4 linked regions of the Homo sapiens genome follow. The protein of the gene in region 1 purifies or fractionates together with the protein of each later gene. This does not show direct contact. Each region holds a gene or a part of one and is shown in the gene's direction. Other genes may lie near its edges.

What was found.
Region 2: the proteins of NEXN (region 1) and PPP1R9A purify together in Homo sapiens (affinity purification with mass spectrometry; 2 studies listed by BioGRID and IntAct, with this or other methods). This does not show direct contact.
Region 3: the proteins of NEXN (region 1) and CPVL purify together in Homo sapiens (affinity purification with mass spectrometry; 3 studies listed by BioGRID and IntAct, with this or other methods). This does not show direct contact.
Region 4: the proteins of NEXN (region 1) and MYO1B purify together in Homo sapiens (affinity purification with mass spectrometry; 2 studies listed by BioGRID and IntAct, with this or other methods). This does not show direct contact.

The regions. Positions count from the first base shown.
Region 1 is NC_000001.11:77,926,624-77,934,151, forward strand, and holds part of NEXN (nexilin), read left to right. Parts: intron 1-92; coding exon 93-269; intron 270-2,692; coding exon 2,693-2,881; intron 2,882-6,658; coding exon 6,659-6,856; intron 6,857-7,528. UniProt on the Homo sapiens protein: Involved in regulating cell migration through association with the actin cytoskeleton. Has an essential role in the maintenance of Z line and sarcomere integrity.
Region 2 is NC_000007.14:95,288,221-95,295,748, forward strand, and holds part of PPP1R9A (neurabin-1), read left to right. Parts: intron 1-315; coding exon 316-498; intron 499-1,870; coding exon 1,871-2,083; 3' UTR 2,084-7,528. UniProt on the Homo sapiens protein: Binds to actin filaments (F-actin) and shows cross-linking activity. Binds along the sides of the F-actin. May be involved in neurite formation. Inhibits protein phosphatase 1-alpha activity.
Region 3 is NC_000007.14:28,996,136-29,003,663, reverse strand, and holds part of CPVL (probable serine carboxypeptidase CPVL isoform b precursor), read left to right. Parts: intron 1-2,279; exon of another isoform or gene 2,280-2,335; intron 2,336-2,608; exon of another isoform or gene 2,609-2,695; intron 2,696-7,412; exon of another isoform or gene 7,413-7,499; intron 7,500-7,528. UniProt on the Homo sapiens protein: May be involved in the digestion of phagocytosed particles in the lysosome, participation in an inflammatory protease cascade, and trimming of peptides for antigen presentation.
Region 4 is NC_000002.12:191,248,046-191,255,573, forward strand, and holds part of MYO1B (unconventional myosin-Ib), read left to right. Parts: intron 1-7,528. UniProt on the Homo sapiens protein: Motor protein that may participate in process critical to neuronal development and function such as cell migration, neurite outgrowth and vesicular transport.

The DNA.
Region 1 (7,528 bases):
TTGTTTGTTTTCTAAGAAACAAATCAAGGCAGTTTAAGTTAGCAGCATTTTCCTTTATGACTAAAAGGTGGGTTTTCATAACGTTTTCTTAGGATGATGAAATAGAAAGTGAAGCAAAAAAAGAATCACTTTCTCCCGGAAAATTGAAACTAACTTTTGAAGAACTGGAGCGACAAAGACAAGAAAACCGAAAGAAGCAAGCTGAAGAGGAAGCAAGAAAACGTTTAGAAGAAGAGAAGCGTGCTTTTGAAGAAGCAAGGCGGCAAATGGTAAATCTACATATTTAAACCTTACAATTAATATTAATGAAGTTAGCCGACTTAAGATAAGGTTTACTACTACAAATTCAAAGAGATTTTACATATAGAAGGGCTGATTTTCTAATTGTATTCATATTTCATATATAAAATACATCTAGGCTAGGCACGGTGGCTCATGCTGTAATCCCAGCACTTTGGGAGGCCAAGGTGGGTAGATCACCTGAGGTCAGGAGTTTGAAACCAGCCTGGCCAACACTGTGAAATCCCTGTAATCCCAGCTGCTTGGGAGGCTAAGGCACGAGAATCACTTGAACTTAGGCGATGGAGGTTGCAGTGAGCTGAGATCACGCCATTGCACTCCAGCCTGGGTAACAGAATGAGACTGTCTCAAAAAAAAAAATCCATACTGTTTTCCAGTTTTCACTCTGGGGCATTTTACCCAATATGCTTTAAATTTTTATTTTTATACATTGTTATTAATGTATAAATATGCAAAATAATTACTCAATGAACCTGGTTTCCTTCATCTGTTAGTTCAATCTGCAAAGTACTTAATGACATGGGTGCGGGACTGATTATAAGTGTAAACTTGTCCTCAGCAGTCCAGTTTTTCAACTGTTTGAACATATCAAAATAACAGTTTACGGTGGAATATGCAGTTTGTCCTATTAAGTGTATGTGTGTGCATATTTGTGTGCATGCCTCTGTGTGTGTGTGTCTGTGTGTGTGTGTGTGTGTGTGTGTGTGTGTAGTGTGGTTAAGAGCATGGATTGTGGGGCCAGATTGTCTAGATTCAGATATCAGCCATTTACTAACTGTGTAACCATGGACAACTGTTTTAATCTCTCGCTGTGTTAATTAATTAAATCTCTCTTAGTTTCTTCATTTTTAAAATGGTAAAAATGAAAGCGCCTACTTCTTTTTTTTTTTAACTTCCACAATGACTTGGATTTTTTTTCAATGCCTATTTCTTAAATGGTTAAACAAGTTAATATCTAGGAAGCACTTAAAATGGTGTTTGTTACATATACTAAGTTCTTTGAAAATGTTAATTATTACTATGGTATTAATAGATTTATCAACAGAAAGTAAAACTGAAATAAGAAAACACTGATTCCAAACCTCGTTTTAAGATTTAAAAATGCGCCAGGCATGGTGGCCATGCCTGTAATCTCAGCACTTTGGAAGGCTGAGGCAGGCAGATCCCTTGAGCCCAGGAGTTTGAGACCAGCCTGAGCAACATGTGGAAACCATGTCTCTACAAAAACAAATACAAAAATTAGCCAGGTGTGGTGGCACAGACCTGTAGTCCAAGCTCCCCGGGTGCTGAGGCGAGAGGATTGCTTGAGCCCGGGAAATCAAGGCTACGGCGAACTATGAATGAGCCACTGGACTCCAGCCTGGGTGACAGAGTGAGACCCTGTCTCAAAAAAAAAAAAAAAGGATCTAAAAATGGAATATTTGTAATTTTAAAGTTACAGAACTTTCTTGATCAGCTTTCTTGAATGATGTTCTAAGAATTATATATATAAAAATTTAATTTTCTAGACATTTATTTGAAAATGTTATTACTCGGGTATAGCTGCATAATATCTGCACATTTTAGATATTTCTGGTGGTCAACTTAATAAAGAAATAGTATTGTTAAATAAATAATACATTTCAATTGATATTATAGTAAATTTAATAATAAACCTTTAATGATAAAATCATAAAGCTGGAATTTTACATAAAATAGTTCTAGATAATAATCTTTTATCTGATTAGTATAAGGTACCATAGTTCACAGTAAAAAAAAAAATACAAAAATTACAAAATGAGAACATTATTTTACTACCAAAGAGATTCTGTGTAGATATACTTGAACCCCAATTATAGTACACACATACGCATTTTATATTTGTTCTGGGAAAGTTAATACTCAACAGTAACCCCTCACTGCAGCCTCAACCTACTGGGCTCAAGGGATCCTCCCACCTCAGCTTCTCGAGTAGCTGGGACTACAGGCACACACCACCACACTGGCTATAATGTGTTTTTTGGTTTTTAGTAGAGACGAAGTCTTGCTATGTTGCCCAGGCTGGTCTTGAACTCCTGGGTTCAAGTGATCCTCCTGCCTCCTAAAGTTCTGGAATTACAGGCGTGAGCCGCCACAACACCTGGCTAAAAATGTTTTAATATTCAATTTTATCTATAGAAATTTGGCTTATTTGAGAAGTTTTATTTAACCTGAGTACATCTTTATATGGAATTTCTCCAAATTTGAATATTTTATCATAGAAGACATTAAAAAGGAAGGGGATTTAGGTCAAGTATATTAAGGGCATTGAAACTCCTGTGTGATAGTGGCTAATTCTGTGCCTTTTGATTAATAATTCATTCCTTTTTCTGATGAACCTCAATTCTTAGTAATGAATTGTTTATTTGGTTAGGTAAATGAAGATGAGGAAAACCAAGACACAGCAAAAATTTTTAAAGGGTACCGCCCTGGTAAACTCAAACTCAGTTTTGAAGAAATGGAAAGGCAAAGAAGAGAAGATGAAAAAAGGAAAGCAGAAGAAGAAGCCAGAAGGAGAATAGAGGAAGAAAAGAAGGCGTTTGCTGAAGCAAGGAGAAATATGGTAAGACAGAAGCTAACTGGAGAATGCTATTAGAATTCACCTTTGAGAATATGTTAATAGAATCATTAGACTTTAGAGAATACCCTATTATTTCTGGAAACTGTGCCAAGAGTAGAAATGGCAAATATGTTTTAAAGTCTCCCATGGAATAACACCAGTTGGTTGAAGGTATTTGCTTCAATTTAGTGTTCAGAAGATTCTGCTTTAAATTGCCATGCTTGGCACAAAGGATGGAATATTATCTCCCTTCTCTGGGAAGGCATGTTTTCCAGAACTAAGTATCCAAGGAAGAAGAAGAAGTAGGGAGTTTCCTCCCTCAACTTTTCTTTCTTCCTCTCCATTCTTTCGCCACCTCCTTCCCATACTCCCTTTCTCCCTCCTTCATTCCTTTATTTCCTTCCTTTCCTTCTTTCAGTTTTCATCCCACCTACTATATATTAAATGACCTGAGTCATTTAATCAGAATTATTTCTCTCTTCAAAATGCTCACTCATCACTCCTGGAAATTGATACCTAACTTAACTGTCACAAGGTTATGACTGTACTTCCTATACCAGTTTTATGTTTGTACAATGTACAGTTATCTGACAAACAATTTTGAAGCAATTTGAGACTAGAGCACTGCATCTCCTTCTTGAAACACTGTAATTAGCTTTGGTGATATCGTAACCTGGTTTTCTTCCTCTGTATGGGTGAGCATCACACACATATGTCCAAGTGTTTATTTGGCTTTATTGCCCACACAGATACTCAAATCAGAAACGTGGAAGCCTGAAACACTTCCATCTTCTTATTCATGCCTGATGTCCAACCAGTCACTAAGTCTCGTTTATTCTACCTCCTAAATCACTATGAAATCTGTCAGTTTTCCCCCCATTTTCACCGCCACTACTATAATCCAAGTTACTGTTACAACTTGCCTGGGGCCAACTCCTCATTAACTTGCTTTCTTACCTGTAACCTATTCTTTCCTGTAAGGCCAGGAGTGATCTTTAAAAAGAAAGAAATTTTGATTGTGTTTTGTTACTGTTTTGCTTAATATTTCCCCACTTTTCTTAAGCAAAAATCCAAAAACTTCTAAAACAAATTTCTTTATAGTCTTGCTCTTGTATATTGCTCTCGTTTCATTTCTTGATTCTTCCTGAATCTGCTCTTTGTTCCAAATATGCTGAATTTGTTTGTATTTCTTCAAAGTGAGACTCAGCCTTCACACTGTCTGAAAGATGTCCCTCACTCCTTTCCCTATGCTCTGCTAACTCCAATTCATAACTTTCCATTTCCTCTGGAAAGCCTTTCCTGATAATAAACACCTTCCATGAATTCTTACAGCATTTAGTACTCTTCTATCATAGCGCTAATCCTGTATTGTTACCACTTATGGCTGTCTTTTCCACTCCATGAGGCCAAGACTGTTCATCAAACATGTGGCACAATGCTTAGCGTAGCAGACCTCCAATAAATGTTGATGGAACAAGTGATATTGAAATCTTACGTGCAGTAGGTAATCCCTGATTCATAAATGGTTTCTACATAGAAGTCCTACAGACGTTGTGAATGCACTTAATTTTTGGAGAATAAGCAGGTTTAGAAGCGGTAGAAGAAGCCGGGCGCGGTGGCTCACGCCTGTAATCCCAGCACTTTGGGAGGCCGAGGCGGGCGGATCACGAGGTCAGGAGATCGAGACCATCCTGGCTAACATGTTGAAACCCCGTCTCTACTAAAAATACAAAAAAAAAAAAAAAAAAAAAAAAAAAAAAAAATTAGCCGGGCGTGTTGGCGGGCACCTGTAGTCCCAGCTACTCAGAGGCTGAGGCAGGAGAATCGCATGAACCTGGGAGGCGGAGCTTGCAGTGAGCCAAGATCTCGCCACTGCACTCCAGCCTGGGGGACAGAGTGAGACTCCGTCTCAAAAAAAAAAAAAAAAAAAAAAAAAAAAAGAAGCGGTAGAAGAGAAGTAACTGTGAAGATTACTAGACCTAGTCCTTGGGGCAGATTTGTAGGCCAATACTGCCTTTTTACCATGATTCACTAGCGGAAAAAATGCAGGCGAGAAAACTGCATTAAAACAAAACCAAGTTTCCTAAAGACATTTCTAAAGAGAAGAGAGAAAACCTTCCTCTTACATTTATATTGTTTTCTTATCCACAAATAAGTATTGTAATTTATCCAGGAATAAGTATTGTAATTTCATACCATAGCTTAGTTCATGCATATGTAAAATTTAAAAATTTCAGGCAATCTTTGAATTGTAAACCACTTAAACATTGTTTCTGAGTTGAAATAGTTCTGTGGTAAAGCCTGGATTACCTTGATAAAACTTGGAGCAAATGAATAATACCCCTTGCCTCTCTCATTCCCCTGTGTGTATTTCAACCACAGAGTCACAGTTCAGGCCAGAGGGTTATGTTATACCGCGCCCGGCCTATAATCTTTTGTTTTTTTTGAGATGGAGTCTCGCTGTCACCCAGGCTGGAGTACAATGGTGCAATCTCGGCTCACTGCAACTTCCACCTCCTGGGTTCACGTGATTCTCCTGCCTCAGCCTCCCCAGTAGCTGGGATTACAGGCGCCCACCACCACACCTGGCTAATTTTTGTATTTTTAGTAGAGACGGGGTTTCACCATGTTAGTCAGGCTGGTCTCGAACTCCTGACCTCATGATCCACCTGCCTTGGCCTCCCAAAGTGCTGGGATTACAGGCATGAGCCACTGTGCCCGGCCTATAATCTTATTAGAAATATTTTGAAGTTTGAATCCCAGCTTTGCCACATAGTATTTGTGTTGACTTTAGACAATTACTTTTCAGTGCCTCAGTTTCTTTCTCTGTAAAATGAGGATATTAGTAACTACTTCATAGGGTCATAGGATTAAATAAATTAATACATTTTACATGTATTAATACACTTTACGTGCTTATAACTGCACTTGGCAGCTCCAAGTATTAACTATTATTATTTCTTTAAAATTAGCCAGACAGCAAATAAACAATAAACTCATAGCACTAAGAATGATTTTTGCCTGATTATGAAGAGATCATGATGGGTTATCTAATTCATTCAGACAAAATCATGATTAACTTAAATGCTTTAATTACCAACCTGGGGAGTCGTTTCAATCCAATTAAAAAATGTTCTCAAATTAGGAAATCTTAATGTCTAATTTAAAGTACTCATGGTATGAATAAATTATTTCTTTGTCTTCACTGTAATGGAGAATAGATGGTTACCATTTCCTTCATAACCACAAAATACCTCGGTCTTACATTTTCTAATAATTCTTCCCTTTTATTTATTTATTTTTGAACACTGTGTTGAGACTTCCTTGTTTACTGTTAAGTCCCCTTGTTTTTTGTTCAATGTGAAACCTATTTAAGAAATCTGGCCGGGTGCGTGGCTCACGCCTGTAATCCCAGCACTTTGGGAGGCCAAGGCAGACGGATCACCTGTCGGGAGTTCGAGACCAGCCTGACCAACATGGAGAAACCCCGTCTCTACTAAAAATACAAAATTAGCCGGGCGTGGTGGCGCATGCCTGTAATCCCAGCTACTTGGGAGGCTGAGGCAGGAGAATCGCTTGAATCTGGGAGGCAGAGGTTGTAGTGAGCTGAGATCACATCATTGCACTCCAGCCTGGGCAATAAGAGTGAAACTCCATCTCAAAAAACAAAAACAAAAACTAAAAACAAACAAAAAAAAGAAATCCCAGTTTCTTCAAGAAATAGTCCCTTTTTAGTATGTGTAATTCTGGCCAGAGTGATAAAATAATTATTTTAAATAGGTAGTAGATGATGACTCCCCAGAGATGTATAAGACAATCTCTCAAGAATTTCTTACACCGGGAAAACTGGAAATTAATTTTGAAGAATTATTAAAACAAAAAATGGAAGAAGAAAAACGACGAACAGAGGAGGAACGGAAGCATAAGCTAGAAATGGAGAAACAAGAATTTGAACAACTGAGACAGGAAATGGGAGAGGTAAGATTTTAAGAAATATCTATATTCCCCATATTTATTAAGCTAAATATTTTACTTATATCACCTTATAATAACTTTGTATTATTATTCACCTTTAGGATAGTTGACATAGTATTATGAGGTGCTTACATGGTACAGGCGTCTGCACAATTATGTGTACTTTCTAGTCTGCTTTAACTACTCCTTCCTTGCTAGTTTAATAAAAAAGTATCTAGGTTTGCAAGTGACTGAGCTATTACTATTTATTTATATTTGTAGTTCATAAATATGCATATATTCAATACATATATTATATATAGACTATACAGTGCCAGCTTCATGGGCATGCACCTTGTGCACTCACAAGACGCCATGTTCAGAAGGCCTTGCATTTGGGGTTTAATGCTGAGGTTACTGTCTTCAAATCCTTTTTGTGGTGTGAACATGGCTCACTGCAGCCTCAACCTCCCATGCTCAAGTGATCCTCATGTCTCAGCCTTCTGTGTAGCTGAGACTTGGGGTGCACGCAGCACCATGTCTGGCTAATTTTTAATTTTTTTTTTTTTTTTGAGATGGAGTCTTGCTCTGTTGCCCAGGCTGGAGTGCAATGGCACAATCTTGGTTCATTGCAACCTCCACCTCCCAGGTTCAAGCAATTCTCCTGCCTCAGCCTCCCGAGTAACTGGGATTACA
Region 2 (7,528 bases), on another chromosome or scaffold:
TTTATTTTCTACATCTTATAATCTGTCCAGACTGTTTTGATGTAAAAGCTTGCAACATTAATATATTTTCTTCAATATTAAACTTCCTACATTAATAATGGTGCTTTTTTATTATGGGGAATTTCTAAACTTCTAAAAACATAAAAACATATAGGTAATAAGTATTTTTTCTAACACCACTAGAACCATTAGCTTATCATATTTTGGTTTAAACATAAATGTGGCTCTCATAGGTTAAGAAATTCCTTTTGATAGCATAATATGAGCCATAGTATCTTGGTCCTTTAACAACACTACGTAACATTCCTATCTTAGATCCTTGATGATGGACAGTCTCCCAAACACAGTCAGTGTCAGAATCGGGCCGTTCAGGAATGGAGTGTGCAGCAGGTTTCTCACTGGTTAATGAGCCTAAATCTGGAGCAGTATGTATCTGAATTCAGTGCCCAAAACATCACTGGAGAACAGCTCCTGCAGTTGGATGGAAATAAACTTAAGGTAAAGAATTATATGTCTGTCTTAGGTTACCAGGTATAATTTGTATTACTCATATCACCTAAAATGTTTTCATTAGGTAAGAGCATTCTGCATATCTGAGAGGTAATTCTCATCAATATTCAGCAGAAAGGATGTTGAATTCTTTCTGAGTAGTAAATGAAGTCTCAGAAAGTCCATCAGGGGTTCCAAATCAAATGGTAGGCTGCTGATTAGGAGAGTGAGGGACCCACTCCATTGCTTCCACCTGGCAACACATGGTCCATATATTAACTCTCCTTACATCTGATGTAGTATGAGTTTTAATAATGGCCACTGTGGACTTTTTCATCACATTAGAATTAAGACCCAGATCCACGAGTCTTCTTTTCCTTGTTCATTTCTCCTTCACCTCCACTCTTCCTTACACACCACTCCCAAACTGGGATGATGTTCTCCCCAGAAGTTTTTTCCCCAAATATGTACACACATCTTCCCTCCCCTCCATGGCACTTTCATTTCCACTTGTCCAGTCCATCTCTCTTAGAGACCAAGGTGGCATCCATCCCTTTGGGAAAGGGAAAAAGGTGCTTACAGCCAACTCCATGTACCCCCAAGCCCCACCCCCGCCTCAGCCCCCTGCTGGGCTGACGGGCAGACGAGTATCTCTTGACAATCTTGAAAAGGTTAGAGATCAATCAATAGCTTGTGAATATGAAGGCCTCATTGACAAGGCTGTCCCTGTTGGGGAGATAGATAGATGCATCCTGCTGTTGATTCTGAAGGTCACGAAACATTTAAAGTACATAAGCAACTCCCCTTATTCTGAATTCTAAGTTCATCGAGCAACCTCCTCATTATAATCAACTTCCTTTATAGGTCTGCCTACAGGGAAAGAATGGCTAGTCATGCTGACACGAGCATTCTGGCCCCAAAGACATTTTTGGTTCTCATTGTAATGAAAACATTGGCAGAAAGGAAGCCATTTCAATTCTTCTTGCCCTTCTTGGAGCCCTCTGTGACAGCAGGTGCTCACTCCTATGCTTTGAAAATATTGATGAGTTTAGCAATACCTTTACCCGTAAATGCCTACAGCCCAAAGGTTGGAGAAGTAGAATTGTGCCCTTTTTCCATTCATTCACCCATTAATTACTCATTTGGAAAGCATTTAATTAATGAGCTTTAGGGTATACTTTGCAAGGGACTTCAAAGAACAAAAGAAAAAATAAAGGGTAGCCCCCAGTGTGTTGGTTTTTAGCAAATGTAACTAGTTCTTCCTCTGTTCTTACCTCTTCAATGTTTGAATTAGTTTACGAACTTGGATATATGGTATGTTAACACCATCAGAGGGCTCATTGGTTTTCAAATTCAGTTTGTGTGTGTGTTTCTTTCTTAGGCTCTTGGAATGACAGCATCCCAGGACCGAGCAGTGGTCAAAAAGAAACTCAAGGAAATGAAGATGTCTCTAGAGAAGGCTCGGAAGGCCCAAGAGAAAATGGAAAAACAAAGAGAAAAGCTAAGGAGAAAGGAGCAAGAGCAAATGCAGAGGAAGTCCAAAAAGACAGAAAAGATGACGTCAACTACAGCCGAGGGTGCTGGTGAGCAGTAACACATACCCTCTTACAGATGATGGAGATGCTCCAAGAGAAGTCCCCACCTCTTCCTGCCCTGCTCTCCTCCAGAGGATGAAAAAGAAACTAAATGATAAGGGTAATGCGGCTCTAGGCCGGCTGAGGAACTGTGTGTTGAATAACTGCATTTTCTGCAATAGAATGCACTCTTAATTTTAACTACTAAAATAATCCCAAGCCACCTTTGGTTCATTAACAAACCAGAGATTTCATTTAAGTAGCTGTGTTTTGCTCTTCTCTAACTTACCAACATCTTGTGTTGTGTTGGGTGTGTTTTGTCACTTGGAGAACTAGTGTGACCCCACCCAAGAGCATGACACACCCTGGTGTTGTTAATGGAGCGCCGTGAATTTTCAGTGTGGGATCCTGAAATGGCAATTGCACATGTCTGCATGGCAGAGAGCACCCTGCCATGAGATCTGAGACCAGTACTTAACTTCTAGGACTGCAACACCTACTCCAATGTGTGGGAAAGATTTGCTCTTAATTCTCAGTCTGGACAGTGAGACCACCCCGCTGTGGAAACATGGGTGCTCTGCTCTGTAGTTACCTACTAAGGGAAAAGGCAAGCAAGTCATTCTGCTTGCTAGGCATCAAAAAGAAAGAAAATAAATTATAGCTATTTGTTAACCACTGAAAAAAGCAAAAGCCTTAAGAATGTGGATGTGGGTATTACCTTGGGGTTCTGAGGGTAATATTTATCCTCTAGATACGGCTGAACAAGAAAGAAAAAAATCAGACATTAATGCAGCCATGGGATATTGGGATCTGTTGACCTTGCTACTGCTGTGTGTTCAGCATTTCAGCAACACTGGCAAACACAACACAGTTCCTCTTCCCCCTACCTAACCCAAGAAATTGAACAGGAAATTGATTTTTAAGGAAACCACCATTTTCAGGTTTCCTCTCCTGGGGAACATTCTGGCTGGTCTTCAGCCTGCCTATGTCACAATCAGGAACTCATCACATATTTTCTACTCAAGATTTCCCAGGTGGGCTCAGTTAGTATTTTAACAAATGTACTTTTAAGAAAAATAGAAATACCAGTTAGAGGAAACTGTCAGTTAACATTTTAGAGAGATTTTGAATGGTTTTTCCGAACCATTCCTTTCCATACTTCAAAGATTCTCAATTTTACAGAAAAAGTTTGTTTAAGGCAGTGCATAGGTATACTTTAGTAGTGGAGGAACTTATACTAATTTTAAGCCAGCATTAAGGATTTCCATGTTTCACCAAACTAAGTCAAGTGCAGGAGACTGGGGCAGAAGAAGGAGAAAATAAACTCGTTTTGAGAAATTTCATGTGATGAGGGTTTTTTGTTTTTTATGCTCATGTATCTGGTTCTCTTTGCTGCGTTGACTCTAAAAATGAGGTTATCCACTTTCCAAAGGACAAGTTTCAGAATAAGACTTGAGGCCACATGAATTCTTGGACAGTATTTTACTTCTTTTACTTTATGGGAATCTCTGCTCTGTTCCCAGCATCTCGTATCTTCCACTAGAAGTATTCCATATTTAGAGCCTCGGCAAGGCTTTTGAGTGTAACAGATTAAGGGAACTCCCTTGTAGCCCCATCTTGTATTTTAATAACAGTGTGATTTTTTTTTATCTGAAAATCTGAATTCAGAAATTATCTAAACTGGACATTTTTAATTCTGTTTTACCCCCAAGGCCTGTTTTCTTTTCATTGCCAGAGTATTGTCGGTTATGCGTCAGCTCTTTTGTCATTAGGTACAGACCCTTCATTCAATCCTCAGAAACGTTGACATGAAGTAACATTGTGTTTTACAGTTATCAAAGTCACCATTATGTTTTTCTGTCTGTCTTCATTAGGGGTATGATAATGAAACTGCCGTATTGGATACTCTATTAATGTCTTGAGATGTCTGGTGCTTTGTTATTTTTTCACATCATGAGAAATAAGAAGCCACTATTAATGAGTGATACAATTTGGCAAAACTTTTCAAATACTAAAACACTAAATTAGTAAAAATCTGGTAATATTAGTGCTTGCTATTGTAAATTTTTGCCATTTTTGCTTATCTTTGGGAAAAAAGTGACCTGGATCACACTGGAAGTTTCACTGTATTCAAGAGTAGAAATAGAAGGATGATTATCTTAAGTTATGTTTACACTTTGGTAATATTTGAAAATGGATGTATATACTGGAAATGTCTGTAAGTGTCTTGTTTTTGCACCTAATTTATGATCTATTATATTGCATTTTCTTAAATATCTTAGAAGTATTTTTCTTTATAACTTTGTATATTGAATGTTTAGATAAATGTCCAACTGACAATGTTATAAATCAAATTCTTATTCCTAAAATCATTTAGTATTATAAGTATTTTGATTTTTTAAGTTAAATTATAGTAATTTTAGGCCGAAGTGAGTTATTTTAACATTACCACTTAAAACGGATGAAATTGTAAAAGTCATTTGGTTTGATTGCCCCACAAAGCATAAGATGTAAACTGATTAAGGGTATGAAAGCAAAGTGAAAGACCTCAGATCTTGTGCACATTTTGTTTTCCTATTATTTCTTTTATTGACTGTAGTGCATGATACCTAATCAAGGCTCCAATGTCTTGCACAATTCCTACTTTAATGCTAGTGGTTTTCAGTGTCCTTACAATTTAACACAGAATTGTTATTTCATCAACCTTAAAAACTGCAGTTTTTATTATCAGAAAATGAACAAAAAGGGAATATCTGGTTGCTATGAACTGATTCCCTAAAGGAGAGCTCAGTATGATTCTAACAATAGCCAAAAGTGTTTTGGGGTATAGGTTATGCTTTGTTGGGAGGGAATGTGTGGTGAGGAGGCCAAGCTGCAGACAGAAAGCATTGTATGAGCTGTATCTGGGTCAGGGTTTCCCATTAAAGGATGTTAGTTTTATAACAGATTACTTTGTTTAAGACCATCTCCCTTCAAGTAACTCACAGTTTATGTAATACTAATCTCATTCTTTTTTTACCTGAATCAGGAATTTTCTGCAGAATGTTAAGTTAGGGAAGAAACCTCATTTCATCCATTCTAACACTCCTGATGAAGTCCCCCTTTAGTTTCATGACAATAAAGCTGTTCTGTGGCTATCATCCTTTAGCTGGGATTGACAATTGATTTCACACCCTCAACATCACAAGCTTTTTTTAACCCACAGCAGTTCATGATTGCAGTATGATAGGTACTAAAGCCAAACTCAGCTTTCAACTGGCACAAAATGGGACTGTCACCTTTTGCTCCATTGTTGTTGGAAACAAAGTGGCAAGAGGGAAAATGAGGAACCAGATTTACCTTTGCCACTATCTGTGACCCTGTAATCATCACTAGCCTGAAATCTTAAAATATCCCAGTCCCAAGCTACAAAAATGGTCACAGGTGGTTTGATCTAGCACCTCGGCCGTTAGAGTTTGTGCTGAAGACAAATTTGTCTGGGTTCATTGTGCACCAGAATTAGCATGTGCTTGAAAATTGCATTTTATAAAAGGGAAATGAAAATTTGCATTTATATAGATACTCTGATTCATGTTTAAGTGTTAAAGGTTATGCAGACTAAACTTCAAGAGGAGATCCAGTGTTTAACAATAGTGTTCTAGAGGATTCTAAAGGAAGCTGCCCCAGCAGCCCTGAGAGAACCATCTATACTTTGGATATGTTGTAGCCCCATCATTACACTGAGATATTTCCATTTGAGTAACTAAAGGTACTCCTGACAGAGCTGGAGATGAGGGGCATTTTGGTGGGCAGTGGTCACTAGGGTTCACGTCACCTACTTAATGCAAAGACCTTAGTGGTCTCAGAATGAAAAGGTAAAATGGAAGAGAAAAGCACAGTCCTTTCCTGTCTTTTCAAATTTACTTTTTATTAAGGATGTACCTGTGCACTATTCTAAAGCTAAGCATTTAAGGATAAAGTCCAGAAATAAAATGTCCATATTTTCTTTTCTTTTCTTTTTTTTTTTTTTTTTCTGTCATCTGTCACCCAGACTGGACTGCAGTGGTGCCATCATGTCTTACTGCAGCCTCAAACTCCTGGGCTCAAGTGGTCCTCCTGCTTCAGCTTCCCAAGTAGCTGGGACTACAGGCATGTGCCACCACCCCCAGCCAAAACATCCATATTTTCTATTAGAATGGTTTACATTATGATGGGGGATGGGGAGCTGGGGGAGGGCTGTACATTCCCAAAAGAAAGTAGTGTTATAGGAAATCCAAATGCGCTTCAGTGATTCACTCCTGAAAAGCAGCCTGGGTATGTTGGCAGATTTTGTTTGCATTTGTCTTGCGTATTTAAAGTCTCAGGAAATCTAGTCTTGGTCCAAAACACTGGAGAAAAAAATAACACCAGACAAAACACATTTGAGTAACTTGAAGTAGCAGCATAGAATAGGCCCAACTAAGAAGTTGGAGGGGCAAAGAGAAAGCCGACAGAATCAGCTTCTCCTGGAAAGTGAAAGCATCAAGTTCTATTTATGGTAGACAGAGGGTCCTTATTTGCTTGTCCGTGGTGTCTATGTGGGCCTATTGAGGGAATGGTAGTTACTTGAAGGTTCACATATGTAAGCGTGTGGACCCAGCACAGTCTGTGACCTGATTCCAGATCCTCAAGAGTGGAGAAGGAAAGAAATATGATGATTTCCTATGCTTGACCCTAACCCAACCCCAAAACTGCTAGGGATTCAACAGTGAGTAAGATGTATGCAATAAGAGAACAGATAACTTCTCAACAATGTGCATGCCGTTTGTGTAGATGTTCAGAACTACATATGTGTGAATATCACTCCCACCTTACACACGCACACACACTGCAATCACATGGCATTAAAAAATATATTGTGTATGGAACTTGGCGAGGTCAGTCAGGACCTGGAGCTGTAATCATAGCCTTATTGCCACTTCTTGCGTTGTGTATACATTGAATGGCTCATAGATTTTAAGAGATTTTTTTATTGTAAGTATTTCTACTAAATGCACTTATCCTTCTATATGTTTATATATTTTGGTAAAATTGATTTATCAGATACTTGGTATTTTAGTAAGAAAATTTCCTCAAATATTTGGCTAATGCTTTGATGTCAAGATTGCATATTGCTGAGTTGGAGCTCAGAAGAAATGTATGCAGCTAAAAATTGCACTGTGTGTTCTTGTGAATTTGCTCACAATTCTAAAATGACATAATTGGTGGCTGTGATGCTTACAGTCACTGCCTACTGGCTCTCTTATGATGAATGTTGCCATCATATGATCATTTATTTACTTTTTGTGCAAGCAATGGCATTTTGGTTGTTGCCAAAAACAACACAAGTGGTTGGGAGTGTATGTTGTTGGAAGGTGTACACTTCTGTTTCTTTCAGCTGTATTATTTATACACCCAGGTTTTCTGTTAAGGATGTAATCATTCATTCAAGAAAGAACAATTGGCAA
Region 3 (7,528 bases), on another chromosome or scaffold:
CACTTTACACCCTTTTTGTGCAAGTACTGTCTTTTGAAAAACTTCTACATAGTTCAAACTCCAGAAGACATTATTAATTATTGATACTCCTTACTTGTGTTCACATATGTAAATTCTCAGTTGCTGTTCATTCTCCTCTGCATTTTCATGTTTCCATTACGGATAATTTTCCTTCTGTCTGAAGAACAGTCTTTCGTACTTCTTTTAGTGCAGGTCTGCTGACAAAAACCTTTTCCAATTTTTTGTTTCCTTGAAAATATCTTTACAAGGTCTTCATTTCTATACAAGTTCTAGGTTGGCAGATATTTTATTTAAGAACTTTCAAGATATTATTTCACTGTCTTCCAGCTTTCATTGTTTCTGTTGAATAGTCAGTTTTCTTGCTGCTTTGAAGGTACTGAAAGTACTGTTTCCTTTTCTGTGACAGCTTTTAAGATTTTCTCTGTCTTTGCTTTTAGCAAAATGCTATTCTCTCTGTGTGTGTGTGTGTGTGTGTGTGTGTGTGTGTGCACATACACATACTATAGTGTAATATACTATTACTAATATACTATTATGTGTACTATGATGTGGTTAGTTTGCTTTGTGTTTATTCTATCTAGGATTCATAGAGCTTCTCAAAACTGGCTTGGTAACTTTTGTCAATTTTGGAAATTTTTCAGTCAGTATCTCTGAATGTTACTATTTGTTTCTTTTGCCCCATTTCTTCCTTATCATTTTATCCTAAAATTCCAGTTAAACATAAGTTAAATGTTTCATGGTTTCATGTCGTCTTCTTCTTCTTTTTTTTTTTTTTTGAATTTTCATACCTTTATTCTCCATGCTTCAGTCTGGATATCCTCTACTGACCTAACTTCCAGTTCATATAGTGTTTCTTCTGCATGCCTAATCTATTGCTAAAACATCGATCGAGTTCTTAATTTCAATGAACAATGAATGAGTAACTTTTTAGTTAAAGAACTTCCATTTGATTCTCTTGTATATATTCTAATTATCTTGTGAATTATTTTTCTATACCTAACATCTTGCATATTTTGTTCACAGTTACTTTAAAATGTGTACCTGGTAACTCTAATATCTGGATCATTTGTGGTCTCTGTTATCTTTTTTTCTCCTTAAATTTTAGTCATTGCTCTTGTTCTTTGTCATGCCTATTAAATTTTATTAAATGTTGAAGAAAATGTACAAAAAATATATGAAGAAAAATGTTATTTTTCTTCCAAAAGGATTTAATTTTTTCTAGAAGGCATACAGAGTAGAGGCATATCACCTTGATAAAGTTTGGGATTGAGACGATTGATTCAGTGCTTGATTTCAAGGTTTGTGAGGACTAACCTGTTTCTGGTTTGTTATTACTTCCAAGGCATTGTCTTTCACGGATCTGATGGAAAGCCTGCAGTGCTTACCAGTGCTGTCCCTCCTTGACAGGCTTGCAACTCCAATTTTTTGTTGTTGTTGTTTCTTTTGGGGTTTTCTTTGTTTTTGTTTTTTGGTCTCTCAAGCACCGTAAGACTAATGAGCTTTTCATTCTCTTATCTGCCGCTTTTGACTTGGCGTCTTGGTCAGAGAAGCTTAAAAATTGGTGAATTTCCCAAAGGGAAAAGCAGCACAAAATGTTAGGCTCACTTCCTTGTGATTCCCTTTTCTCTACGATCATGGCCTCTCTCAAGGCTTGGTTGCTCTCTGATACCTTTAAACAGCTTATTTTCTTTTTAATTCAGCTTCTATTGTTTTCTGTGGAATAAGATTGGTTTGGTACATGCTATTGTGTCACAGTCAGAAGTGGAAGTCCTAAATTACAAACAGTATTGTTGCAACTGATTAAGATGGTGTACATAGGAAGCCCCTTGGGGATGTTGTAAAGGAGCACCAAAAGTTTTAACTGCTCTAGAATATGTACCATTATGATGGCTACATGTGGGTCTCCTGAAGCACCTAGAAGCTCCTTTTCTCATTCTATTCAATAACCATTTGCTACACCAGAGGTGTACAGTGGGAGACCTCAAGAATCGTTTCCCTGAGTGCTGTTGAAGCAACTCCCAGCCTTGATCTCTGCTGTTTTTTCATTCTTTCGAAAGTGACTTATTGCATTCTTTGTTAGGAAGTGTCTGCTAACAAGCTTTGGCTTGTTTTTTATTCTCGTTCCCAAGTACCTTTTCAATATATTTTTATTTGAATGCTATTTACGTTATTTCTACTTATAGTTAGTGTCTGAAAGCAAACTAAAAGATAAGATTTAGTAAATGTGGAATGGCATAAAAGTAGTGAAAAGAACTTACATGTAAATCAGAAACCACAACAAGCAGATTCTCTTGAGGGTATGCATCTTTCTATACTGGAAAGCAGAAACAATAAACCAATCCTACATATTCTGCCTGCCAAACTTGCAGCTCCCATGTGGCTCTTTTCTCTTTCCTGGTGAGTAGCACCACCTTTGCAAATCTGCCCATGTCAGAAGCCTGAAATGGGGAGGATTTGTTGGGGATGGGTAGAGAAAGTCTCACTTAACCTTTATATCGGATTAATCACTGATTTTATTGGTTCCATCTTACTACCCTCTTCTCCTTCCCCTTCTCCCCATCCCTCCCATGAGCCCACATCCTCTCACCTGATTTGGTAGTCTCCTAATTTGCCTCCTTGTACCAGTATGACTCCCTTCCAAATTAGCCTTCTCCTTAGACATTAAGTCATTTTTCTACAATGCAAACATAAGCATGTCACTACCCTACTTAAAACCCTCTAGGATATATCCAGAATAGGCAAGTCTATAGAGACAGAAAGCAGATTAATGGTTGCCAGGGGCTGATGGGGAGAGGGGGAGTGGGAAGTGATTACTGATGTATATGGGTTTCCTTTGGGGTGGTGAAAATATTCTGCAACAAGATAGTGTGAATATACTAAATGCTACCGAATCATACGCTTTAAAATGGTTAAAGTGGTAATTTTATGTTAAGTGTATTTTACCACAGTTGCTTTTAAAGCCCGATAGGATAAGGTCCACTCATCCCAGCATGTCACTTGGGGCATCACATGGTCCCACTAGCGTTTGCCTGTTCATCTGTCTCTTCTGTTTCCCTCTATTCCTGCATGAATGGGACGACATACAGACTGCTGCATGCGCCCGCAGCTTCACGGCCCCTGCATTTCCACACAGAATTTCCTTTGTCTGCGGTGATCCCTCTGCTGCACGTGCCCACAGTTTCATGCCCCTGCATTTCCATGCCTCCTGCATTTCCACGCCTCCTGCATTTCCACACACAGTTTCCTCTGTCTGCGGTGATCCCTCCACCCCCACCCCACCCACCCACCACTCTCCGTCCAGTGATCTCCTTCAAGACCCCCAAGAAGCTTCCCCTGACACATCTACATCAACAAGCCCACTGTGAACTTCCCTCTCTTTTCTGTCATCTAAACAGGCACAACTGGGAAACCTTTACTGGCAGGTCTTTGTTTCTAGTTCCAGGGAGAATTATATTGTTTTCTAAAAAATAAAGTGGAATGAAGCTTTAAAGTGTTTGTATAACCCTGTTGAAATTCATGACACATTTGTGACCCCCTGGAACATCTGGAACACATGAAGTTAGAGGCTGCAGCTCTAGTGTGGAGGCACCCAAAATAGACAGTTCTATTCAGGGAGCCCTGAGATTAATCTTGTCACATTTAAATACGTAATTACAGCCCTGACACATTTTGTTACTCACCTCTAAAAGCTGCCAAGTGGTCTGTTATCTTTGATTTGTGAATGGTGAGTGGCTTGATTATAAACAAGAGTGGTTTATTTTTCCACACTCAAAAATATATTTATTTTTGAAGTTAATATCAGTAAAATGCTGTATGTGAATCTGCTTAAGAATATGCTTTGTTTGGGAATTTTGTGGCATGTGAAACAACTTTGTCCCTTAACAAGCTTTCTCTTCCCGCAATATTAATGACACAATTTACAATGCCATTAGGGTCATTACACATGGCAGCTCAGAAATTGGACCAGGGTCAGGTAGGTCACTGAGAGGAAGAGTAAGAACACCTGACCCCTTCAGCGCTCCTTCACCACTTGATAATTATGGACAGGGAAGGTGTGTGTGAGTGCGCATGTGCGTGAGTAAATACCAGGAGAGCGGATACCCAGGAAGTGAGGTCATGAGTAGGTATTAAACAAATTTCTACTTGTATTCATGAGTAGGTGTTAATCAAATTACCTTGATGTAAACAGAGAATTCCCTGGTTTGCCACAGAGTAGAAAAAAATTCTCAACAGTGGTTTTCAACAAGCAGTTGGAACAACAGCATCAGCATTGCTTTGGAATTGTTAGATATGCAAATTCTTAGGCCCTGCCCTGGACCTTCCGAATTGGAAAGTCTGGAGGTGATGCCTCACGATCTCTTTTAATGAGCTCAGGTATTTTTATGCACGTTCAAATTTGAGAGTCATTGTTTTGTTTTTTCGTTTGTTTTTGAGGTGGAGTCTCACTCTGTCGCCCAGGCTGGAGTGCAGTGGTGCCATCTTAGCTCACTGCAACCTCTGCCTCCCAGGTTCAAGTGATTCTCCTGCTTCAGCCTCCCCAGTAGTTGGGATTACAGGCGTGCATCACCATGCCTGGCTAATTTTTTTTTTTTTAATTTTTAGTAGAGGCAGGGTTTCGCCATGTTGGCCAGGCTCTTTCAAACTCCTGACCTCAAATGATCCGCCCACCTCAGCCTCCCAAAGTGTTGGGATTACAGGCATGAGCCACTGCACCCAGCCAAGAACCATTGTTTTAAACAACCTTTTTTAAACCAAGGTTTTTTATGAAAATGTAGGAACACCATGTTCTAGGGTAGTTTAGGTTCATATAAGCATATATACATATATATTCATTTATATTTAGAGATGGGATCTCCTTTTGTTGCCCAGGCTGGAGTGCAGTGGCTCAGTCAGCTCACTGTAGCCTCAAACTCCTGCAATCAAGCGATCCTCCTGATCTCAAGCAATCCTCCTGATATAGGCATTTTGATTCTGGATTTTCAATATAGATAAGTGTTGGAAGAATAACGAAAATGACCAATATTTACTGAAGACCATCCCAGGCCGGGCACTGTGCTAAGTATTCCAGGGACATTATTCCACTAACTCCTCACACAACTCACAACTACCCCACGAGGTAATACTTGTTTCCCAATTGTAAAGTAAAGGAACCTGAGGCTCAGTGAGGTTAAGTTCCTTGCCCAAGGTCACACAACGTGCAGTGCCTCTTGCCATGCTCCTGCACTCTGACTTCTGAGCCCAGGCTGTGAAGCACTGTGCTATCCTTTGTTTGTCCTTTGTTAGCTGCAGCACTGGTTCTGGGGGCAGGATGACCTTTAGCTCTTGGGTATTCAATTTATTGGTGTTCCGGACCATTGCTGCCAAACTCATTTCCAGTTGAAGCAGCTGGGTTTTGTCACACATATGACTTTGTTAAGTGTCCTCAGCTGAGCTGAAGCTGCACAGAAATCACTCATCAGATTCCTGCCAGGGCCAAAGATATGGATGAAAATCTGCAGGAAGAAATGTCTAGCCTGGGATTGCGGGGCGGCAAAAGTTTCCCTCTGGAGTCCTATGAAGGGGTTCTTGTCACACATGTTTACTTTCAGTTTGTGATAAAAAGTGGGCATGCTGGGTTTCCAGTTGCAAGCTTCTACACAAATGGTAGATGGGTTTCACAGTCATTGCAGTGAGGCACAAATGACCATTGATCAACTGCAGCAAAACACAAAAGTTTCACATTTGCATGTGAAAGAGTTAAGTCTGGTCCCACATCTGCAAATGGGATCTGCCTCCCTCACTGTAATATGTGAAATACAAAAATACAGAAAATTATGTTTATATCTGCAATAATTTTTTTCATCAATAAACCTCAGAGGGCTATTGAGAGGTGAATAAAAATGTTCCGTGACTAAGCTGCAAATTTCAGTTCAAAGATAAGGAATGATTGAGTAGAGGGTTTGATTAAAAACACCACACCGGTGTTTGCATCAGAAGTCAGGGTTCTAGCTAGTTATCTCACTTAACAATTGTGTGACTTGGACAAGCCACTGAATAATTCCAAATAGCTCAGTCATCTCAATGCTCATGTGAATGGTGCTCCCTGTAGTTGTTCAGTGCACAGCTTGTATAGCTGCGAGCTGCAAGGTAAATATCATCTAATAGTGTTAATCCTACTTACTGCACGTCAAGGTTGTAAGATGGAGGGTGTTGGGATATAGGGGCAGATTTTCAATATAATAAATGTACTATCCAAATATACTTTTTCTGCCTCAGTTTCCTTCAGATTGAGACAAGTAGAAGAACCCAGCCTCTTAGGAAGGGCCTTGTGAAGGTGACCTTTAATTGCTGATCGTGATTCTGCAGCTAGAAGTTACTGAAAGTGATGTCCTTTTTGCATACGTTTATTCACTTCATGCACTGGTACCTCCTGTCCATTCTCCACATATGGAACGAGACATCTCAGGCCAGGCTGACCTCTCCTGCATGTAACTTCCCAACACTCAGTGTCAGTCCTTGCCCTTTTGGCACTGAATCATGACAGCTTCCCGTTTCCCTCTACTTGGAATATTAGCTGACGCTAGAGGCTTAACGAGTACAGAGACCAGTCCCCTTTTGCTGATTGGATCTCATCATTAGAGATGTTTTAGGAATGCTTTATATCACCCAACAAGGGCTTGGGTTACGTAGGTGTCTGCATTTGTCAGAACTGGTGAGTCTACACTTAAGACTAGCGCATTTCATTGTATCTTAACTTGACTCAAAAGAAGAAAATCTGTAAACACATGTTGAACTCTGATGAATAATGTGATGCTGAAGTGTGTGGGGGAAGTGCACTACATGCCCATTTTACTTTGAGATGTGTCAAAAATATAAGATGGATTAGTGGATGGGTGTGGGATGCATAGAGGCACCCTTATGTGAGAAAGCAAGTAAAGTGAAAGTTCATGACTCAAAATCGTCACTATATGAATTGTTTTCGAATTTGCTATGTTTTAAAATGTTTTATAATCCAATATTAGGAAAAAAAAGAATGTTCTAACTCTATGCTGCTCAAAACATGACTTTCTTTCATTTCAAGTGTCAAGTTTTTTGTTTTGTTTTTTTTTTTTTTGTTTTTTGGTTTTTTTTTTTAAGAGATGGGGTCTCATTCTGTCAACCAGGCTGGAGTGCAGTGCATGTGGCATGATCCTAGCTCACTGCAGACTCCAACTCCTGGGTTCAGGTCATCTTCCTGCCTCAGTCAAGGATGTTTTTGGTTTTTTAATTTTTTTGAGAACCAAAATTTCCCCTTCATTACTGATAAAGGCTAAAATGGAAGGTATGGCTCAGTGTGAGGGACAATTGGGCTGGCTAACTGAAGGGTGGAATTAAGTAGACAATCCACCCCATTGCAGGCAGACCTCACATACCCCAGAAGTAGTGGGCTGGAGGTGGGCCTCACCAGGTAACACTTGCAGTGCAGCACTCTCAACTGCGGGGAGCAGGCAGATCACTCTCTAGAGGAAAAAGACAAGGAATAATTTTC
Region 4 (7,528 bases), on another chromosome or scaffold:
CATGTAGCATCCATGTTTTTAGCATTTGTCCTCCTTTGGGTAAGATTGTCTTCTACCTCCCTTCTACTGTTTTCAATAGCTGAACATTTGGATTTTAATTAAATAGCCTAACAATAATTATAGCTATCATTTAGTATGTGTTCATTACATGCCAAGAATTTTACATACATTACTATATTCATCATCACAACAACTTGATAAAGTGGGTGTTATCTTCATTTTCCAGTGGAAACTGAGGCCTGGAGGAGTTAAGTAACTTGCCCCTTACACCGTACAGATGCTCCTAGATTTACAATGGGGTTATGTCCTGATAAACCCATCATAAGTTGAAAATATTGTAAGTTGAAAATGCATTTAATACACTTAATCTACCGAACCTTAAATGTGTCCAGAACAGTCACATTAGCCTACAGTTGGGCAAAATCGTCTGGTAACACAGTCCACTGTAGAGTATTGGTTGTTCATCCTTGTGATGGTGTAGCTGACTGGGAGCTGCGGCTCGCTGCCACTGCCCAGCATTGTGATGGGGTATCGTACTACATGTGGCTAGCCCCAGAAAACATCACAATTCAAAATTCTAAGTATGATTTCCACTGAATGCCTATCATTTTTGCACCATTATAGAGTAAAAAAATCCTAAGTTGAACCATTGTAAATTGAGGACCCTCTGTGCTTGTGTAGCTAACTACTAAGTGGTGGAAGTGCGATTGGGGATCCCAAAGTCCATACTCTTTAGGTATATACTGTATGGTATGATGTATTTTAATAATAACAACAGTTTGATTATCTAGTTGGTTAGCCCCTGGCAGATGTCAAATTACTTTCACGTCTATTATTGTAGTTGATTCTTCCAAAAACCACTGTGAGATAGGTTTGGAAGCCCAGGTTAGGACATTACAACTCTTAGAACTGTATTGCTAAAGAGCTGTATGTTATGGCCTGTATGAATAAGCTGTAAGTGAATGAAACTTTACTTTTAAAAAGTTAGGTTGCCAACATTTAAAAATAAGTTCTTTTTTCGAAACATTTAAAAGTGGTAGAACAGAGTAGATCTTATATTGCACTCAAGGCTTTTATGTTTATTGAAATCCATTTTAAGCCCTTTTTATCTTACAGCCTTTAATAGAACATTGCACTTTGCTTCTTAACTGAGACCCGATGCCAGAGTGTCTTTTTAAGAAGAGAAATAAGGAGGGAAGGAATGTGCTTATAAAGAGGAAGTGGGACATCAGAATTGGAAACACTCGCAGCAGCAGGCCATAGATTTTTCCCAGCACATGCTTTTTGTCCTGGCAGTAGCCTTTTACAGAAGGCATTCTTCCTTAGGGAAGTGTCAAGGGTCTTTCTTTACAGTATCCTCTGAGATCATCAAATTTCTGAGCTCTGTGGGAACACTCATTCCACATGATTTTTGTGCTCATCCCTTCCCCACAGGGGAAGTGAACTAGTTTAGGCATCTGCATGAAAAGGGAATAGCAGTGGTATCTGTCCTTAGGGTGGCACTGAGAGTGGCACTGGGCAAGAGGTACCAGACTTTGACACCAAGTACAGGAGCAGACTGGAGTTTAACACTTGGCATCATGGATTGTTTGTGGATTCCTCAGAATGCTCCTGGGCAAATGGAAAAGTCAATATTAGGTTTTTGTTGTTGTTGTTGTTTCTAAGATAAGAATTTGAAGACTGGAAGTTCTGCCTTGTTTATTTATTTCAAGCTAGGACACCATTTGGGGTCTTCAAGTTCTGTGGTATAGGTGAGAGTAACTTTAGTCTCCTCAGGCTATGAAATTCTCCTCCACTGGCTATTTTAGACTTTTGCCTCTGGAGGAGAGGCAGACACATGGTTTGCTAAACTCTAACAGGTGAGCACCTTCCAACTTACCATAAGCAGCATAGAGGAGGAAAAAGGATGCTTCCCAGCATTACACTCTTACAGCCTTTGGTAGGTCTTTGCAGTTGTCAGCCTCTTCCTCATCAGTTCATATTTTATTAAGCACACAGGTCATGCAAGACAATGCATTAGACCCATTTTAAAAGGAAGAAAGGAAATCCATTGTGCTTTCAGGGTCGTTGTAGCAGGGCAGGTGGATGCATCCCAAGAGTGGATGTTGGTGAAATGAAGAAAATGGCTATGACAGCTGTAGTGACCAAGACCAGGGGAACACTTGCTTTTGAGACAAAAGCTGAGAACAAACAGAAGCAAGAGAGTGGAAGAAAACTGAACACAGGTGCCAGCTTCTCTGACTTAGGTTTTATTTCCTCCAATCTCCAATGATGTGAAAGCGTTCAGGTTCAGAACCCTGACTGAGGTCCAAAAAATGATATATAAACTACCATTCTATGCGAGAAGGTTTGAATAGCAGTGTCTTCCCTGGTGCATGGCAGGTCCTTGGTACCTCCGCCAACTCTCTTCTCTACACACCTGCCAGCATCCCTTCCTCATCCTGTGTTCAATGTGGCTGTCAACTAAGGCTGTTAATAGACTTCAGGCATATTTGCATTTTAAAAGGCTCTTGTGGACAAGACATGCCAAATCTCCAAAGAATGAGTCATTCACATTGAGTTATATGATATTATTCATGCTACTGTTTATTAAGTATTGGGTGCTTGCTTTGTGCTAGGCCTCATGCTGGGTACTTTCTGTAGGTTGATTTCCTTCTCATCACTATCCCTTAGTAGGAGGTATTTGTAGATGAGGGAATTGAGTCACTAGCCCAGAGGTCAAGCCTCAAAGACCCCTTTGCTTTCCAGAACAACGAAGTGCCACCAGGTAGAGTGTACTGTGAAGCTTTGAATGAGTACTGTGGAGCTTTGGGCAAAAACTTTGATTCTTTGGGTGAGTACTTTGATGCTTTGGTCACTTTTAAGGAGTTCTTTTTAAGGAGTTAGAGGGAGAGCCCAGCTGTTGTCCCTCTCCTTCCTGGCTTGTTTCCTTTGTCACCTGAAGTCAGGATTCCTGTAGGTGTCCTTGGCTGGTCCAAAGCTAGGAGAATTGGTTGAACTGCTTCTCAGTTTATCCTTTTCTGGGTGTTTTGGCTTCCCAGTCCTGCGTCATTCTCCTTCCCCAGCTGAGGGAGACAAGATTCAGCCTGCTAGTGAGAGACTGAATAGCCAGTCCCTTTTCTTACCCCCTTGCTGGCCATGCCTTTATCTTCAGGAATAGATTGTCATCTGGGAGTTTCAGGGCGTTTGTCTGATCTCTGGTCTCCAGTCTGCCTGCGAGCAGCATGCCACAGGGCATCCAGTCCTGGAGCTCGCTCAGATCTTTGATGTGTGAGAATAAGCGGTGTGGATGCCATTGCAGAGCTGGGTTTTGGGAAGAGAGTTGGGGTGAAATTTGTACTCTTCCAAGATAGGCAGTTTTATAAATAGCAGAAAAGTAAAAATTGACATTCTTCTTTTGCTTATCAGATAAGCACCTGATAAGTTTCTGAAAATGCAAGGGGCCTGTCTTTCCTTGATAGCTTAAGAGAGGCTTAAGAGGAAACCAAATCTCTGCCTTCCGGGGACTTTCAGTCCAATTCTTCCTGGACTCAAGATGCTTTAAGATTGCACAGATGGCTTAAGTTCGCTGTGTTAAAATGAAAATATAGTAATGTATTTCAGAATTGTACATTACAGGTTTTTAAATTTGTTTAAAAAAAGAATGCAATATCTTTAAAGACTTTTTAGAAAATTGAATTGAAAGGACAGTGGAACAGATTATTAGTTATCGACATTATAATACATTTACACGTCATTTGCCTACTTAATTTTCACTGGTTACATGAAAGCATTTTCACATTGCAACCACAACAAAAAGCTCCCCCAAAATACACAAAGAATCTTAATTGCAAGATTCCTGCTGGTCCCACTTAACATTTTCCAGTGTACACCTTCTCTCTCCATCATTGCTGCTTTGCTTTACATTTTATATTAGATCCTGAATTGCTATTTGTGATGTTCAGATTGCAAATATACTAGCTTCCTAACTGATCATTTTTTCCCTTAAAAGTACTTCAGAGTGATTGGTCACTGTTTTATTCATTTTAGACCCACAGTCTAAATGCTTTAAGGAAAAGCTTAATTTTCATAGACATTGGGCCTATGCCAATTTGCATGGCTTGTTATTTTTGTGATCCTCATATTATCTGCTTCTAGTCATAATCGGTAGATCACAGTTTTGAGCTACCCCTGATATAGTGAGCCATCTATGAAAAAGTTCTCGCTTGCCTGAAATTTTCAAAGTGTTGAGAGCTATTCATAAAAATGTATGAACTGCCACGTTGGTCAGGTTCAGGGCTTATTTGCCGTAGTACTCTGCAGGTATTCTGTGACATTCAGGAAGGAAAATAGAGTTAGACTCCTGATGTCAGCTTTGTAAAGGTTCATAGATGTCTCTTGAGTATCTGTAATTACATGATCTCTTAAAAACCTCTTATCCATGTACTGAAATTCATCTTGAATTGTTTATTTTTATCCTGCATTCACACAATTCACACTTTAAAGATAGAACTTGATTATATTGGTATTTTTATTTCAAATTTTCAATTTTTGGAATGGCAGAATGTTGCTATTGAAAAGTGTCTTAAAGGTCACCACTGTAACCCCTTCATTGTGCTTGAGACCTGCTCAGCTCCTAAATTTAACAGGGGACGGATCTGAGAAACTGACTCCAAGTTGTAACCTCTTGCTTAGTTTTCTTTCTAGGGAGATATCCGTCTCTCCAAACCTGTCGAAATCTAAATTTATTACCTCTTACCTAATACTTGGTCCCCTGTGGACTTCACTTCACTGTTTGTGCTAATAGCCTTTTCATCACCATCTTGACTTTGGATTCTAGAGCATCACCTACTTCCCCATTTTCTGTGACCCTTACATTCCTCCTGTCAGTCACTATGTCTGATTTATTGTTCTCCCCTATCTTTTGCCCTTTGCAAATCCTCAAGCCCTCATTCTGGTTCAGACCTTTAAAAGGCTGAGTTACTGGAGTATAGTGTTACCCAAAGTGAGTTGTTCCATAAAAAATTAGTAAGTTGGAAAAAAAAACAAAAAACAAAAAAATACCCTACCCATAAAGTTGGTAAATGTTCCTGTAAAAAGGGTTCCTTGGCCAGGTACATGTTAGAATAGCTGGTTAAGTTTCTTTGCAGAAAGACTTCTCCTGGCCTTCATTTGTGACTGTGTACTGTGAATTCCCAAGAGAAAGATACAGTATTCACTTGTCCCAACTTATGTCACCATTGTACCACGTTTTGGGGGGATCATTTCGTAGATAACACTGCTATAGTCACTTCACTGTAGCTTTTTAGGTTCTGTCACTGCCTGGCTTCCTGTGGGAATGTGCATTCCATGTGAGCCGTACTTGGTTCACTCTCAACTGTGTCTTGTGCTTTTACCTTGTTGTTCTGGATCGTTCCTTCCCCCCAGAAGCCCCTCTCCCCTATCACACTGGCACATCTTTCAGTGCCCAGCTTTGTGCCTGTCTTCTCTGTCAGTTTTCCCAGACTCAGGTTGCGCTTGTTCTTCTGAACTTAACTGTTTCACAACTTAAAAAAAAAAAAGAAAATATTTGAAGCACAATGAAATGTTGAAAGTAACCTTACACATTCATATGGTTAAATTATTGGAATTCCCACAAAATTCCATTTTCCATATTTGCGTCAGTTGACACATCACATGCACATCACATTCTCCTCTGTTTCCCCCCACAGGTTAGCTTGCACATATGTTCAACAAGCTTGTTGCTTGTGGGGCTTTTTTCTTTAATTTTGTGTTACTGAAATTGTGTTGCATTTAAATAGAAATTCAGGGAGAATTGACATCTTTATGGTTTAATGGCTTCCCATCCACAAACCTCATAAGCTTCTTTAATAGTTCTTTTATGTCCTTCAATGAAATTTTTATCATTTTGTATGTAAAACTCTTTCATACCGCTTGTTAGATTTGTGCCAAGGTGCTTCATGGTTTCTGTGGTCATTTTGAATGAATGATTTAGTACATTTCTGGTTAGTGTTGCTGGTGTACAAGAAAGGGATTGATTTTGTATTTGTTTATAAATAGTTCTTGATTGATCAAGTTCACATCTAAACCTGTGTTTGCTGTGGGAGCCTGCAGTTGGGTGGCTTTTCCAATACAGCATAAAATAACTTAGCCTTTATTGAAAATGTCATAATTCACTTTATTTTTATTTATTTATTTATTTTTTGAGACAGAGTTTCGCTCTTGCTGCCCAGGCTGGAGTGCAGTGGCATAATCTTGGCTCACTGCAACCTCCACCTCCCAGGTTCAAGCAATTCTCCTGCCTCAGCCTCCCGAGTAGCTGGGATTACAGGCATGCAACCACCACGCCTGGCTAATTTTGTATTTTTGGCAGAGATGGGGTTTCTCCATGTTGAGACTGATCTCGAACTCCTGACCTCAGGTGATCCACCCACCTTGGCCTCCCAAAGTGCTAGGATTACAGGCGTGAGCCACCGCGCCCGGCCTCTTTTTTTTTTTTAGAGACAAGTCTGGCTCTGTTGCATAGGCTGGAATGCAATGGCATGATCGTAGCTCGGTGCAGCCTCATACTCCTGGACTCAAATGAGCCTCCCACCTCAGCTTCCCAAGTAACTAGGACTATTGGTGTGCGCCTCCATGCCCAACTAATTTTTAAATTTTTTGTAGAGGTGATGTCTCATTGGTCCCAGGCTCCTGGCCTCAATCAGTTCTCCTGCCTTGGTTTCCCAAGTGCTGGGATTACAGGTGTAAGTCACCACACCTGACCTAATTTAAAAATTATATGCAGTACTTTTAGAAGTAAGGAAGGGGTGACTTTTAGTTATTTAATGTGTTCATTTATTAACTCATCAAATGTTTAGGTGCCTAGTATGTTTCAGGCACCGTACTAGGTACTGTGTTTTTGTTTTTGTTTTTGTTTTAGAGACAGGGTCTCTCTTTGTTGCTCAGGCCGGAGTACAGTGGTGTGAACATAGCTCACTGCAGGATCGAACTCCTGGGCACAAGTGATCCTCCTGTCTCCACCTCCCAAGCAGCTAGGACTACAGGCAGCATCTCCACACCCCACTCATTTTTTACATTTTTTTGTGGAGACGGGGTCTTTCTATGTTGCCCAGGCTGGTCTTGAACTCCTGGCCTCAAGTGATCCTCCCTCCTCAGCCTCTTGAAGTGTTAGGATTACAGGTATGAGGCACTACACCCATCCTGTACTGAATCTTTAATGTTGAACAAAACAGATGTGGTTTCTGCTCTCATGAATGTGAAGGGGAAGAGACATTGTGGAAATGGACACGGATAAATATGTATTCGTGGATTAGCATCGATACTGTGAAGGAAAAGGACAGGGGGCTGTGAGAAACAGAAAGGCGGAGAGAGGGAAATTTAGATTGGGGTACAAGGAGAGCCTGACTTAGGAAATAAACATTCACACAGCTGCCTGAAGGATGAGTTGGTGTTAAAGAATGAGGAGGATGGAAGAACTTTGTAGGCAATAAAAAGAGGCTCAGAAGCCCCAAGGTGGGACTCTACTCTGAATGACACAAAGATGGGA